Linked DNA regions of Homo sapiens. The protein of the gene in region 3 purifies or fractionates together with the protein of the main gene of each other region. This does not show direct contact. Each region holds a gene or a part of one and is shown on either strand. Other genes may lie near its edges.

What was found. The genes of interacting proteins can lie anywhere in the genome.
Region 1: the proteins of RIPK4 (region 3) and UBA1 purify together in Homo sapiens (affinity purification with mass spectrometry, with the first as the bait; 2 studies listed by BioGRID). This does not show direct contact.
Region 2: the proteins of RIPK4 (region 3) and COPB1 purify together in Homo sapiens (affinity purification with mass spectrometry, with the first as the bait; one large-scale study listed by BioGRID). This does not show direct contact.
Region 4: the proteins of RIPK4 (region 3) and PHLDB3 purify together in Homo sapiens (affinity purification with mass spectrometry, with the first as the bait; one large-scale study listed by BioGRID). This does not show direct contact.

What each region holds. Positions count from the first base shown.
Region 1 is NC_000023.11:47,196,829-47,200,328, forward strand, and holds part of UBA1 (ubiquitin-like modifier-activating enzyme 1), read left to right. Parts: exon of another isoform or gene 1-162; coding exon of another isoform or gene 163-196; exon of another isoform or gene 197-1,374; coding exon of another isoform or gene 1,375-1,527; intron 1,528-1,562; exon of another isoform or gene 1,563-1,628; intron 1,629-1,974; coding exon 1,975-2,091; intron 2,092-2,219; coding exon 2,220-2,278; intron 2,279-2,380; coding exon 2,381-2,549; intron 2,550-2,651; coding exon 2,652-2,786; intron 2,787-3,500. UniProt on the Homo sapiens protein: Catalyzes the first step in ubiquitin conjugation to mark cellular proteins for degradation through the ubiquitin-proteasome system.
Region 2 is NC_000011.10:14,489,812-14,493,311, forward strand, and holds part of COPB1 (coatomer subunit beta), read right to left. Parts: intron 869-3,500; coding exon 754-868; intron 1-753. UniProt on the Homo sapiens protein: The coatomer is a cytosolic protein complex that binds to dilysine motifs and reversibly associates with Golgi non-clathrin-coated vesicles, which further mediate biosynthetic protein transport from the ER, via the Golgi up to the trans Golgi network.
Region 3 is NC_000021.9:41,760,553-41,764,052, forward strand, and holds part of RIPK4 (receptor-interacting serine/threonine-protein kinase 4), read right to left. Parts: intron 1-3,500.
Region 4 is NC_000019.10:43,480,747-43,484,246, reverse strand, and holds part of PHLDB3 (pleckstrin homology-like domain family B member 3), read left to right. Parts: intron 1-3,500.

The sequences.
Region 1 (3,500 bases), on a different chromosome or scaffold from region 3:
AATGACAAGGCAAGGAGATAACTAAGTAATAGAGGCCACTACACGTGCCCAGGGAGGAACTCACATCCTCAGGTCAGTGAGTTCTGACCACAGACCTTGGCTTCTTTAACCCTGCCAGCAGCCCCTTGAAGACAGTTTCATTTGTCCCAGCTTTTGGAGAAAATGAGGCTCAGAGGAAATGAGATCTCTACCCCAGGTCAGTCAGAGAGTCAGTAAATGGAAAATATGGTTCACCTTTGTCTCTACTAACTCACCAAGCCTCTTGCTACCCAGGTTGGCTCTTAGCATTCTAAGCAATTCACCTGGCTATCTCAGGGGCTCCAGCCAGCCTGCTGCCTCCCCTCATCTCCCATTCCTTAGCCCTGTGGACTGGGCCCTGAGCCCAGGGGCATTTGGCAAACAGTCCCCCACCAGCTGCATGCCTCTGGGCGAGTGAATGGGGTTCTCTAAGCCTTTCTTTTCCCATTTGTGATTTGGGCATAGGGTTATCTGGGTCATGGGGATTGTTAAGATTAGACAAAGCCCTTTCCTCTTTGATTGACACACAGTATGCTCTTGGTAGATAGTAGGGAGCTCTTGTCATTGTGGTTGGTGCTAGTGACAAGTGCCAAGATGGAATCTTAGGTACATTGGGATACTTAGTGTCATAAAAGTCTCAGTGTGGGAGGACTTGTGTGAACAGAAGACTCAGTGCCTAGAGGAGCACTTGGGGTGAGGGGAAGTGACGCTGGGTCCTCCCATCTCCAGCATGTGGACCCAGTCACCCCCACCACCAGATTTCACTTCCACAGCAGGCTTTATTGTTCTGTCTCTGGGACCTAGCAGGTGACCCTGGGCAAGTTACTTCTCATTTGTCCGGCAAGGACACTAAACTCTGCCTTGCTGGGTCAGGGTCATGGAGGGGATGAAACGTGATAACACGAGGAAGCAGCCTGGGCTTCAGAGTCAGCAGATCCTGGTCTGGTCCCAGCTCAGTGTGTGGGAACCTTGGTCACCGAACGTCCCTGAGTGAATTTTTTTCCATCACTTTAAAGTTGGGGGTATTATTGATAGCAGTCCAAACCCCACAGGAGTACCCTGAGGACAGAGTGAGACGAGGTTTAGAGAAGTGCTTACTATGGCATCTGGCACAAGGAGGACTCCTGATCAATCTAATACTCATTTATCATTGTGGTTAACCTGTTTAAGGGACTCCGCATGCAGATGAGGCTTGGGATGTGTTTGTTTTCTATCTTTTTGCAACCTCTTTTATTGGTCTGTGTCGGTTTTCCCCTCCCAAAGCTGGGGGCAGGGTTGGGCTTTATAAAACTTGAGCCCCTCTGGGGACTGGGTTCTCAGCAAGTTACCGCTCCTGCCATCATGCCACCCTGATGGATGTCCAAGCCTCACTTCCCTCCTGCACTCCCCGCTCCCGCCGCCATCCCTGGGATTAAGGGAGAGGAGAATGGCTGCTTGTTACTGCCTACCTACTCTGTGCCAGGTTCTATGCTCTGTGTTATTTATCATCTCGATAACCCCGTGGGGAAGGTAAGTGGTATTATCACCCCTGTTTCACAGGTGAGAAAACTGAGGCCTGTGGCGGTTAATTATTACTGTTAGTGCGTGGCAGGCTCAAGATTTGAAACCAGGTCTGTCCTGAATCCACATCCTTCCCCTGACCTCGACACAAGTACATTCTTGTCATTCCTTTCACTCCAGGATTGGAGTCTCTCCCTCATTATGCTGGGCTGGGAAGAAGCAAATGGCTTAGTGGTCAGCAGTGTGGATTTGCAAATCAGACCACCTGGGTTCAGATCTTAGGTCTGACAGCTGTGTTACCCTGGGCAAGTCCTCACCTTTCTGTGCCTGTCCCCTCTTTGCTGTAAAATGGGGGTACTAATACTTAAGTCTTCCCTTCCCCCACAGTTGCTACTAACAAACAGAAAAACGGTACCCATGTGCTCCAGGGTCACCTCTGACCTTTTTTTCCTCCAGATGTCCAGCTCGCCGCTGTCCAAGAAACGTCGCGTGTCCGGGCCTGATCCAAAGCCGGGTTCTAACTGCTCCCCTGCCCAGTCCGTGTTGTCCGAAGTGCCCTCGGTGCCAACCAACGTGAGTGTCCTCTCCGTGGAGACTGGCAGACGAGGTGGTGGGTGGGAAAGTCTTTTGTATCACTGTCTGTCTATCCATGCTCCACTCCTGTGTGTCTCCCTAAACTTGTTCTTTTCCTCTATTCCTAGGGAATGGCCAAGAACGGCAGTGAAGCAGACATAGACGAGGGCCTTTACTCCCGGCAGCTGTAAGTGGGGCCAAGGCCGGGCTGAGGGGTGTGGAATGGGACATTGAGAGGATAAGGTTGGGTGGGGCAGGCCCTGACCTAGAGTACCCCCTAACCTGGCAGGTATGTGTTGGGCCATGAGGCAATGAAGCGGCTCCAGACATCCAGTGTCCTGGTATCAGGCCTGCGGGGCCTGGGCGTGGAGATCGCTAAGAACATCATCCTTGGTGGGGTCAAGGCTGTTACCCTACATGACCAGGGCACTGCCCAGTGGGCTGATCTTTCCTCCCAGGTACCTCTTCCTAGCACCCTTCCCCCTTTCCCCCTTCCCGAGGCACCACTGTTCCCGGTGCCACAGCCATTTCATCTTTTTCCCTACTGCACACCCTTACAGTTCTACCTGCGGGAGGAGGACATCGGTAAAAACCGGGCCGAGGTATCACAGCCCCGCCTCGCTGAGCTCAACAGCTATGTGCCTGTCACTGCCTACACTGGACCCCTCGTTGAGGACTTCCTTAGTGGTTTCCAGGTATCTTGGGGGTACTACCCAGCCTTCTGCCCAGTTTTCTCAGAGCCCATCTCTGGTTTATTCAGTAGTGTTCAATATTGATTTAATGGGTCGGCCTGAATGTCAGGTTTTGTGCTGGGGGACTAGAGTATGCAGGCAGCAGTTAGCCCCTGGCCCTGCCTTTTCTTTTCTTCTTTTTTTTTTTTTGAGACGGAGTCTTGCTCTGTCGCCCAAGCTAGAGTGCAGTGGCGCGATCTCGGCTCACTGCAAGCTACACCTCCTGGGTTCACGCCATTCTCCTGCCTCAGCCTCCCGAGTAGCTGGGACTACAGGCGCCTGCCACCACGCCCGGCTAATTTTTTTTTGTATTTTTAGTAGAGACGGGGTTTCACTGTGTTAGCCAGGGTGGTCTCGATCTCCTGACCTTGTGATCCGCCCGCCTCCGCCTCCCAAAGTGCTGGGATTACAGGTGTGAGCCACCGCACCCGGCCTGGCCCCGCCTTTTCAAGTGGGGAAGATGTGTACAGACAGTACAGCATAGTGGTTGTGGGCACAGACTGTAGAGCCATACTGCCTTGCTGCAGGCCTCCAGCCTTGGTAGTGTGACTTCAAGCAGGTTGTTTCATCTCCTGTACCTTTGTTTTCCTGTTTGTAGTCAGTGCGTGGTAGCAGCACTGACTTCATGGACTTTTTGTGAGGGTTAAACACGTGGAATTGCAGCTGGCATATAAGGAC
Region 2 (3,500 bases), on a different chromosome or scaffold from region 3:
ACATTATAAATGTATTTAAAATCATTGAACACTTAAAAATGGTTAAGAGGGTAAATTTTTTTGTTATGTGTATGTTACCACAATTTTAAATAACTGGGGGACAATCCATTAAAGGAAGATCTGGGGGAAAAAAGTCACAGTGTCTAGATTTCAGAGGACTGGAAGGCCTCCATATTTTTCAGACTTCATGCATATTATTTCCCATATTTTGGTGATAAATACTGGCTAGAAAATTTCAAGATTAGATGGCATCAAGGTGTACAGAGTAATTGCTAACCAAAAGTAGATCCATGTACTTTAACCACCAGCAGAGCAGGATGTGGAGTTGGCACCCGTGTATGAAAGTTGAAGAACCTAAAAGGATACACCTCTACACTGAAGGCCACCCTATTTCCACAGGCATGGCTAAGGATGTATCTATGCAAAGCTACTATTTTTCTCTACTAAACAATTTTAGATCTATACCATCATAGGAAAGAACAGTCATAATAATTTTAATTTTTAAAAACTGTAGGGTGGCTGCTCTAAAATGCCTCTTCAATGTTTAATTGAAAAAAGAATGTATACATATGCAATATTTTAGAGAAGGGTTAAGAAAAAAATGTATTTTTCTACAAGCTTAAAAATTTCAAAATACACAAACCACATGAACTATAAACAAAATTACTGACTAAAAACATGATTAAGTCTATGTAATACTTTCAATTGTCACTTAAATACAGTAATAAGAGTATTTTTTAAAAAGTACCTCACCTGATCTGCATGAATTAGCATCATAAATGCATTCCTTTTGCAACTTGCATCCTTCTCATTCACCAGAAAATCATGTATCAGTTCAGGAGCATCAGGTATAAGATGTTCAAAATTTCTTTAAATAAAACAGGTAACATCCATATTTAATAAAAGCCTACTTTACTATTTTAGTAACTCTCTGGACAATACCAAAATTAAATTTAATCAAACTTTACAACATACTTTTGCTTTTTTTTTTTTTTGGAGACAGAGTCTCACTCTGTTGCCTGGGCTGGAGTGCAGTGGTGCGATCTCAGCTCACTGCTGCCTCCACTTCCAGGGTTCAAGCAATTCTCCTGCCTCAGCCTCCCGAGTAGCTGCGATTATAGGTGCCCACCACTATGCCCAGCTAATTTTTTGTATTTTTAGTAGGGATGGGGTTTCACCATGTTGGCCAGGCTGGTCTTGAACTCCTGACCTCATGATTTGCCCACCTTGGCCTCCAAAGTGCTGGGATTACAGGTGTGAGCCACCGTGCCCAGACAAGGCTAGAGTGCAGTGGAGTGATCTCGGCTTACTGCAACCTCCGCCTTCTAGGTCGAGTGATTCTCCTGCCTCAGCCTCCTGAGTATCTGGGACTACAGGCACGTGCCACCATGCCAGGCTAATTTTTGTTATTTTTTTAGTAGAGACAGCATTTTGCCACGTTGGCCAGGCTTGTCTCATATTCCTGACCTCGAGTGATCCACCCACCTCGGCTTCCCAAAGTGCTGGGATTACAGACATGAACCACCACGCCCGGCCTGCTTTTTGAAACTTCAAATCAATTAGAACTGGGAGAAGGAGCCGGGCGCAGTGGCTCACACCTGTAATCCCAGCACTTTGAGAGGCCCAGGTGGGCGGATCACCTGAGGGTGGGAGTTTGAGATGAGCCTGACCAACATGGAGAAACTCCATCTCTACTAAAAATACAAAATTAGCCAGGCGTGGTAGCGCATGCCTGTAATCCTAGCTACTTGGGAGGCTGAGGCAGGAGAATTGCTTGAACCTGGGAGGTGGAGGCTGCAGTAAGCTGAGATCGTGCCATTGCACTCGAGCCTGGGCGACAAGAGTGAAACTCTGTCTCAAAAAAAAAAAAAAAAAGGAACTGGTAGAAGGAAACACAAAGTTATACCTTCATCTATTAAATTATCAAATTATACGTTTTCTAGTTCAATACAGAAAAAGCTGATTTATTCAACACACCATCTGTTAACCAATGTCTCTAATAACTGTTGTGCATACATTTTAAGCATATCAATATATTAAGAATTACATTAAGAGGAAAAACATAGTCCCTTGAATTTTATTAGTTGTGTACTATTTGCTTACTGACTTGCCTCTTCTTTTGGAAATTTAGAAATATTAGTACAGAGAAGAGTGAACACTAGCTTAATAAAATCCATCACCTTGCTTCAACAATTATAATTCATAGCTAGTTTTGTTTCATCTATATCCTTGCCAAATTTACCTCTTGCCATATTATTTTGAAGCAAATCACAGGCAATGTATCCTTTCTTCTGTAAATATATTGGTAGGTTTCTCTAAAATCAAGGACTCTTTACTTGCAAAACTAATTATTCATCATCACACCTCACAAAATTAATAATTTCCTAATATCAAGACATAGTGTTCACATTTCCAATTGTCCTATAAATGGCCTAATTTTTCTATGTGCACTATAGTTTAAATTCTGAAATTTGTGTAGTCTGTATGGTAACATTAAAGGAACTCACCCTACATTATTATTATTATTATTATTTTTATTATTATTTTTTGAGATGGAGTTTTGGTTTTGTTGCCCAGGCTAGAGTGCAATAGCGCGATCTCGGTTCATCGCAACCTCTGCCTCCCAGGTTCGAGCAATTCTTCTGCTTCAGCCTCCTGAGTAGCTAGGACTACAGGCATGTGCCACCACGCCCAGCTAATTTTGTATTTTTAGTAGAGACGGGGTTTCTCCATGTTGGTCAGGCTGGTCTCGAACTCCCGACCTCAGGTTATCGGCCCGCCTCGGCCTCCCAAAGTGCTGGGATTACAGGCATGAGCCACCACGCCTGGCTCATCTACATTATTAACCAGAATACCACTTTCCTTAATGGATAAAATCTAACAGTAAGATAACTATGAAATTATATCTTAACCAACAAATCTACTAAAGTACAAAGATGCTTATAAAAATTACATTGTAGTCCTTAATAAATTGATACCTGTGACTGTAAAAACTGAGCATTCTAGCTTCATCTAACTGGTTCCTTAAATTGGTTTAAAAATCCAAAATCTCAGCCGGGCGTGGCAGCCTGCACCTACAATCCCAGCACTTTGGGAGGCCAAGGCGAGTGGAACACTTGAGGTCAGGAGTTCGAGACCAGCCTGGCCAACATGGTGAAACCCCATATCTACTAAAAATACAAAAATTGGCTGGGCGTGGTGGTGGGTGCCTGTAATCCCAGCTACTTGGGAGGCTGAGGCAGGAGAATCACTTGAATCCGGGAGGTGGAGGTTGTTGTGAGCCGAGATCGCGCCACTGTGCTCCAGCCTGGGCAACGAGAGTGGAACTCCATCTCAAAACAAAACAAAAACAAATAAAAATTCAAAATCTTCAGCTTTCTAAGAATTGGACTCAGTTATAACTGTAGCCCTTCTCATTTAAAAAGTTCCTTCCTCAAAGCTTCTGACAGTAAAAAGACCGACATTCCACAAAACGAATTCTAAAACAAGGACCAAAGTTA
Region 3 (3,500 bases):
GCAGTCGCTGTGGATCCCCTTGGGCTTGGCAAAGCAGAGAGGGGAAGCCAGCAGAGCACACACACTCTGTTGGAAGAATCTGCAGGATGGGTCCATTGACTGCATGTGGAGGGGAGAAGCTTGCAGGACCTCTCTGGAGCTGCACCAGGGGTCACTAGGCAGCTCTCTACGGTGGACGCGGGAGCACCCCAGGAGGAGCAGCTGGGGGGTGTGGGGGGTGGGCAGGTCGAGTGTGTCTGAATACACTCAAGGAGCAAAGAATCCCACTGGCCTTGGGAACAAGTGAAGCAAGTATCAGGAATGAACGTGAAATTATTATGAGACAAAACTTAGGGGAGCACGGCCTGCTTTCCTAGCGCTCTGGTTAAATGACCAACTAATGGAAAACAAGATGCCCACCAGTGTGCAGTGCTAGCCTGTGGGGGTCCCTGGGCTGAGCTGAAAGCTGCCCCATCACCAGCATACCATCGGCTGCTTCCTCCCTCTCCAGGGGAAATCCCTCTCCCTGCAGCCACAGGCTTGGGCCAGGCTCTGGGACCCATCAAGGGATGGGGGGTGCAGATCAGATCGTGGGACTCTCAACCCTGTCCCCAGTCTCAGTGAGCATTGGGAAAAAAGGAAGACGAGGACCTGATGCCAACGTCAAGCATCAGCTAAAATGAAACCGGTCACCAAAGAAGGAAAATGACACCTCTCAGCTCCCAGCCTTTCTCCTCCTCTGGGAACACCGGTTGGCTGAGGCCCTCATTTGTTATTTAAAGGAATACCAGCACAACTTCCAACCCGGCAACTGCCACTAACTTCCAAACCATCGGACTGGGACATGGTACCAGCTGCTGCTTCTCTTTTATGTCTTGTTAAGAATCAGAGTTATGATTTGTCTGTTTCCGATTGCTCAAATGTGGCCAGCTTGCCGCCCCTCCCCTACCAGTGTGGCCTCCCTCCTCCGGACACTCTGCCCCGGGGCGCTGGCGAAAGTCCTTCCGTAGGACTCAGACCCACATCCACTGTGCAACCGTGTGAGGCACACCCTCCTCGCCGGAGGGTTTTGAGGAAATGACAATTCGGGTGTTTAGAGGCCAGCCATTCGCAAGGGTCATTTTTCCACATTAAGTAGACATTCTGAGAGTGAACTCTCTAAGCCAAAGCTGACTGATAATAAACACGTATTCTGAGAACAATGTCAATCAAAGGAAGGCTGAGTAGCTTATTAAGTGGAAGCTCTGAGCCACTCCACAAATAGTGTTTTCTTTTATTTGCCCAAAGGGCTTAATACATAAAACCCCGGTGACTTCTGATTGCAGAGTGAGCTCATTGGCGACTCTAACAGCTACGGGCTGGCAGCAGTGCACACCCCTCCCCAGCGCACCGAGTTCAGCAAGTACTTTACTCTCCCTGCCCCGGGCTCTTTCTGCAGAACGGAGACCCCATTTACCTTACTTTAAAAGAAACAACAAACAAACAAAAAAGGGCCACTGCTGCTAGTTGGCTCCTGAAAGCGGATCCCGGCTAGAATCTCCTAACGGAGTCCACCCCAGCTTTGCGCAACTGCCTGAAGGGAGCCCGGCACGACTTCCCCCTTCCATGGGCCACACATTTGAGGGCACTTTCTCGAGGAAAATCAGCTGTCCTGGAAAAAAAAAGTCATTGTTTCCGTGGACAAAAGTGTTGTGACAGCATGATCCAAACTGGCTTGGGGTAGACAGGATTCCAGCTGAGGAAGGGGGTCCCGGGACCGCCCTGTGGGAGATCTGAGGCCCAGGAGTGGGGGTGGGGCGGCTCCCTTGCCTACCAGCCTGGATTTCGCTCAGAAGCACCAGCATGTCCTCAGAAACTTTCCACACTGTTTACCATCCAGTAACCACTGGGCCAAAACCCACACGACCCCGCCTTCCAGCCCCTCTCCAGGTGCTCCCTAGGCGCACATCTGGGAAACTCCAGCGGCTTTAGGAAGCTCCAGCCCTTCTGGGGTCGGGTGTCGCCCGGCGGCATTTGCAATTCAATAAGCCTGAAAGGGCCTCTTTGCAACAAGCTGCAAGAAGAGGCTTTTCTGATCAGGGAGGTTAAGAAGTGCTCAGGTACTCGAAGCACAGAAAGAACCCACCAATTGCTTTTGAGCAATGGCACTATTTTTTTTAATACATTTTTTTCTCCTAAGCAGTGTTTCTGGCTTATTTTAATGATTCTGGCTTATTCTGATGACCACACAAAAGGAACTGTAGATTTATTACTATTATCATTTTAACACGTGGAGAGATGCCGAATCCAGCCTAGGTGCTGGGGTGGCGGCCAGGGAGCACAGAACATCACACAGTCACATTCGCACCGTCTCCAAATCGCATTTCTTACTGTTGACAGTGAAGTCAACGTTTCTGGGTTGACCAGAAGCCCCTCTCGTCGGTGTTAATTAAAACACAACCTAAAAACTGTGCCTTGCTCCAAGCGCAGCTACGCTTAGGCACAGTTCAGAGGGGGTGGCATCCTATTCCCCTCTCCTTCGCTGCTGGTGAAAGCGTTGCTAATTCTGCTTCCACGCAGGAACGGGAAAAGCCCCCCCTCCCCCGCAAAAGTGTCCTGGGTCCTGTTTTGGGTTCCACATGAAAAATCTCTGGGCATTAATTAGGATTAACTTGGGGTTCAACTTTTTAAAGATACGGTGAGTAGCACTTAGATGAATTCGGTTTTCTCCTCATTTAGGGCTAGCCAAAGTGTATTTCGCCCTCCCAGGGAGGCCAATGGAGTAGCGAGAAATACGAGAAATATCATCACACCAATCATCTCTAAAAGGAACTTCTAAAGAAGTCCCAAGGTTCTTCTCCAGGCTCAGAAATTCCAAAGACCTGTGGACCAGGCCAGCTGCGGTTTCCCCTGCAAGCACGCATCCTGGAAAGGGGGAAAGAACTGCCCCGGGACATGGTCTTGTGCAAGCGGAGAAGCAATAAACGAAGGGAAAAGTGAGAAGCAGGGAGGTGGGGGAGACGGTGAGACCGCTCAGGTAACAAAGAGCTCCGAAGGAGAAACCTAGCAACTACCTTCAGGAAAATGCAGCCGGAAAATGTGTTTCATCATCTGTTAGCTGATGCCTCTCAGCGAGGCCTTCTGCACACCAATCCAATTATGTTCCCAGGGAGCCTCGGAGGGGTTCCCACACGGCTATTTTTAAAACTGACAAGAAACGGGCTTGTCCAATCGTCAGCTCTGTTGTTACAAACCTGGGGTTTGCTCAGGCTCGCCCCGACCAGCCAGGGCTGAATGTGGCAGGAGCGTCTCCCAGCCGGCGCCCCGCAGGCACTGGCTTCTTCTGAGCATCCCCTTAGCTGGGGGCTGGTAGGGGAGGAACGGGGCCTTTGGGATCACTTTATTCTCTCCAAACTGGTCACAGCACCCATCCCTACACCCCACCCTAGGCCCTGTGACCCCCACAATGAGGGTCAGCCAGGGAGGCCAGCTGCCTCTCCAAAGCCACCCCACAGGACCCTCCGAGGCACCGAGCCCCATGA
Region 4 (3,500 bases), on a different chromosome or scaffold from region 3:
TGGAGTCTCACTTTGTTGCCCAAGCTGGAGTGCAGTATTACAATCTCGGCTCACTGCAATCTCCGCCTCCAGGGTTCAAGCGATTCTCCCGCCTCAGCCTCTGGAGTAGCTAGGATTACAGGCGCCCACCACCATGCCTGGCTAATTTTGTATTTATAGTAGAGACGGGGTTTCACCATGTTGGCCAGGCTGGTTTTGAACTCCTGACCTCAGGTGATCCACCCGCTTTGGCCTCCCAAAGTGCTGGCATTACAGGCATGAGCTACCGTGCCTGGCCTTGTTTTCCATTTTTAACAGTAGAGACACTATGTTGGCCAGGCTGGTATTGAATTCCTGGCCTCGAGCCTCCCTTCTGGCCAAAGTGCTGAGATTATAGGCCTGAACCATCATGCCTGACCTAAAATATCTTTTCACAGTTGATTTATTTGAATCTATATGCAAAGCACACGCTATGCATTTGGTTTAATGTCTCTTAAATCTTTTAATCTCTAACAGTTCTGCCTCCCCATTAAAGAAAATGCTATTTATTTGTGGAAATAATCAAATAATTTATCCTGTTGACTTTTTCACATTCTTGATTTAGCTGACAACTCCCTTACATAAATTACATTTTTGCCTATACTAATAACATTCATAGAATCAATGCGTTTTGTTATAAAGAATGATAAAGCTAGGCACCATAGCTCACGCCTATAATCTCAGCACTTTGAGAGGCCGAGGTGGGAGGATCACTTGAGTCCCGGAGCTGGAGAACAGCCTGGGCAACATAGTCAGACCCTCATCTCTACAGAAATTTAAAAAATTAGCAGGTGTGGTGGTGCATGCCTTTGGTCCCAGCTACTCGGGAAAAGGCTAAGGTGGGAGGATTGCTTGAGCCCAGTGGGTGGAGGCTGCAGTGAGCTATAATCGCCCCACTGCACTCCAGCTTCAGTGACAGAGTGAGACCCTGCCTCAAAAAAAAAAAAGAATGATAGATAAAGTATTAAGAAAGTGGTCACTTTCTTCCTGATCTCACTTCTACTGCTGAGAAGCCTTCAAATCTGTGTTTATACTTTTCCACATGCACCAGTCAAGCCATATTTTGTGAATTTGTCTCATAAATAAGCACATCCTTCCCAACCTTTTTGTTTTTACCACCATTTGTCCTTCCCTTATTCATTTCAGCCCATATTTATTGAGTGCCTACTGTGTGCTAGACCCTGGGTCATAGCAGTGACCAAGATAACAATCCCCACCTTTGGGGGAAGCTGATGTTTTAAGGGGGAAGATGGACACAAAGCAACATCAATATGTAAAATAAATAGCATGTCAGAGGCTGATAAGAGCCAGGGAGCAAAATAAGGCAGGAACGGCAGTGGGGTCTTCTGCATTGTTAGGCATAAGCTTGTGCTCATTAAAAACGAAGCACAGGCCAGGCGTGGTGGCTCACGCCTGTAATCCCAGCATTTTGGGAGGCTGAGGTGGGCAGATCACCTGAGGTCAGGAGTTCGAGACCAGCCTGACCAACATGGAGAAACCCCGTCTCTACTGAAAATACAAAAATCATCTGGGCGTGGTGGCATGTGCCTATAGTCACAGCTACCCGAGAGGCTGAGGCAGGAGAATCGCTTGAACTGGGAAGCAGAGGTTGCAATGAGCCAAGATCACACCACTGCTCTCCAGCCTGGGTGACAGAGCGAGACTCTGTCTCAAAACAAACAAACAAACAAACAAACAGAATTGCTCCTGCTCTGGTGTTCTGCCTGGCTTCTAGCATCATCATTTATTAAACAGTCCCCTGCTGTGTGCTTTGTCCCCTGCCGTACACCCCTGCTATCTTTTGTGCACGTGAGCAAGTGTGTCCCTGGGCTTCACACCTAGAAGAGGAACCTCTAGGTGAGAGACCCTGAGGGCAGCCAGCTCATCCTTGAAACAGCCCCAGAGGAGAGTGCTGTGATAACCCTGGTGTTTTAGCATAGGGAACTGAGGCTCCCAGAGGGGCAGGAGTTCTGTGGAGGTGACACAGCCGGGCAGTGGTGGAGTCCCAAGCCCATCCCTGGTCTCCTCCTAGATTGGGGCCCAGCTCCCCTACATCCTAGTTTGGTGACCTTGGAGAGTCACCTCTTCTTAAAGCCTCAGTTTCTTGATCTGTCTAGCAGGAACATTAATGGGTTCTTTTGGAGAAGAAACGAGGTAATCACAGTGACCACTTGGCATAGTGCCTGACACAGAGCGGGAGCTTCCACACACAGTGGTGATCCTTGGTCTTTCTGTGTGGATTTGGGGAGATTGCAGGCCCAGCGGGTACTCTTTAAACCTGGCCTTTCCCTCCCTTCCTTTCCCTCCTCCCTAATCCTTCTCATTTCCCCACCTCACTCTCCTGTCTCCAACCAGCAGATCTCATCTCTGTTTCTCATCCCTTCTTGCTCTGGCCTTGCTTCAGTTTTCTTTCTTTTCTTTCTTTTTTTTTTTTTGAGACATGGTCTCCCTTTGTCACCCAGCCTGGAGTGCCGTGGTGTGATCTCGGCTCACTGCAACCCCCACCTCCTGGGCTCAAGCGATCCTCCCACCTCAGCCTCCTAATTAGCCGGGATCCTAGGCACACACCACCATGCCTGGCTAATGTTTGTATTTTTGTATTTTTTTTTTGAGATGGAGTTTCGCTCTTGTTGCCAAGGCTGGAGTGCAATGGTGCCATCTTGATTCACCGCAACCTCCACCTCCCGAGTTCAAGCGATTCTCCTGCCTCAGCCTCCTGAGTAGCTGGGATTACAGGCATGCGCCACCACGCCTGGCTAATTTTGTATTTTCAGCAGAGACAGGGTTTCTCCATGTTGGTCAGGCTGGTCTCAAACTCCCAACCTCAGGTGATCCCCCCACCTTGGCTTCCCAAAGTGCTGGGATTGTAGGCGTGAGCCACCACGCCCAGCCTAATTTTTGTATTTTTTGTAGAGACGGGGTTTCGCCATGTTGCCCCAGGCTGGTCTCAAACTCCTGGGTTTAAGTGATCCTCCCCTCTTGGCCTCCCAAAGTGCTGGGATTACACGTGTGAGCCACCGCACCCATCCTGCTTCAGTTTTCTAACTCCTTGACACTCAAAGTGTGGCTGGTGGAACAGCAGCATCAGGGCCCACCTGGGAGCTTGTCAGACATGCAGAACCTCTCCCCCTACTCCAGACTCCACCCTGAAATGACTGAATCAGAGTCTGCATTTTAACATTTTAACAAAATCCCCAGCGGATCTGCTTGCATGAAGAAATCTGAGATGTACTACCCTGAACCTCAGTTTGACCTCCGGAATCATACCACTGTTTGCAGGGATTATTTGGGAAGAATAGGTTGGATCAGACCAGCTCATGGTCAGGCTCTCATAAATAGTGGACACTTGTATTGCCTTAAATCCTCCTCCCCAACCTGTATGACCATCTGAGGTGACCACTCTACCTGGTGAGTCCTGGCTCTGTCAGCTCTGGCTGTGTGACTTGTGCCGAGTGACTTAACCTCTCTGAGTCTTGGTTTCC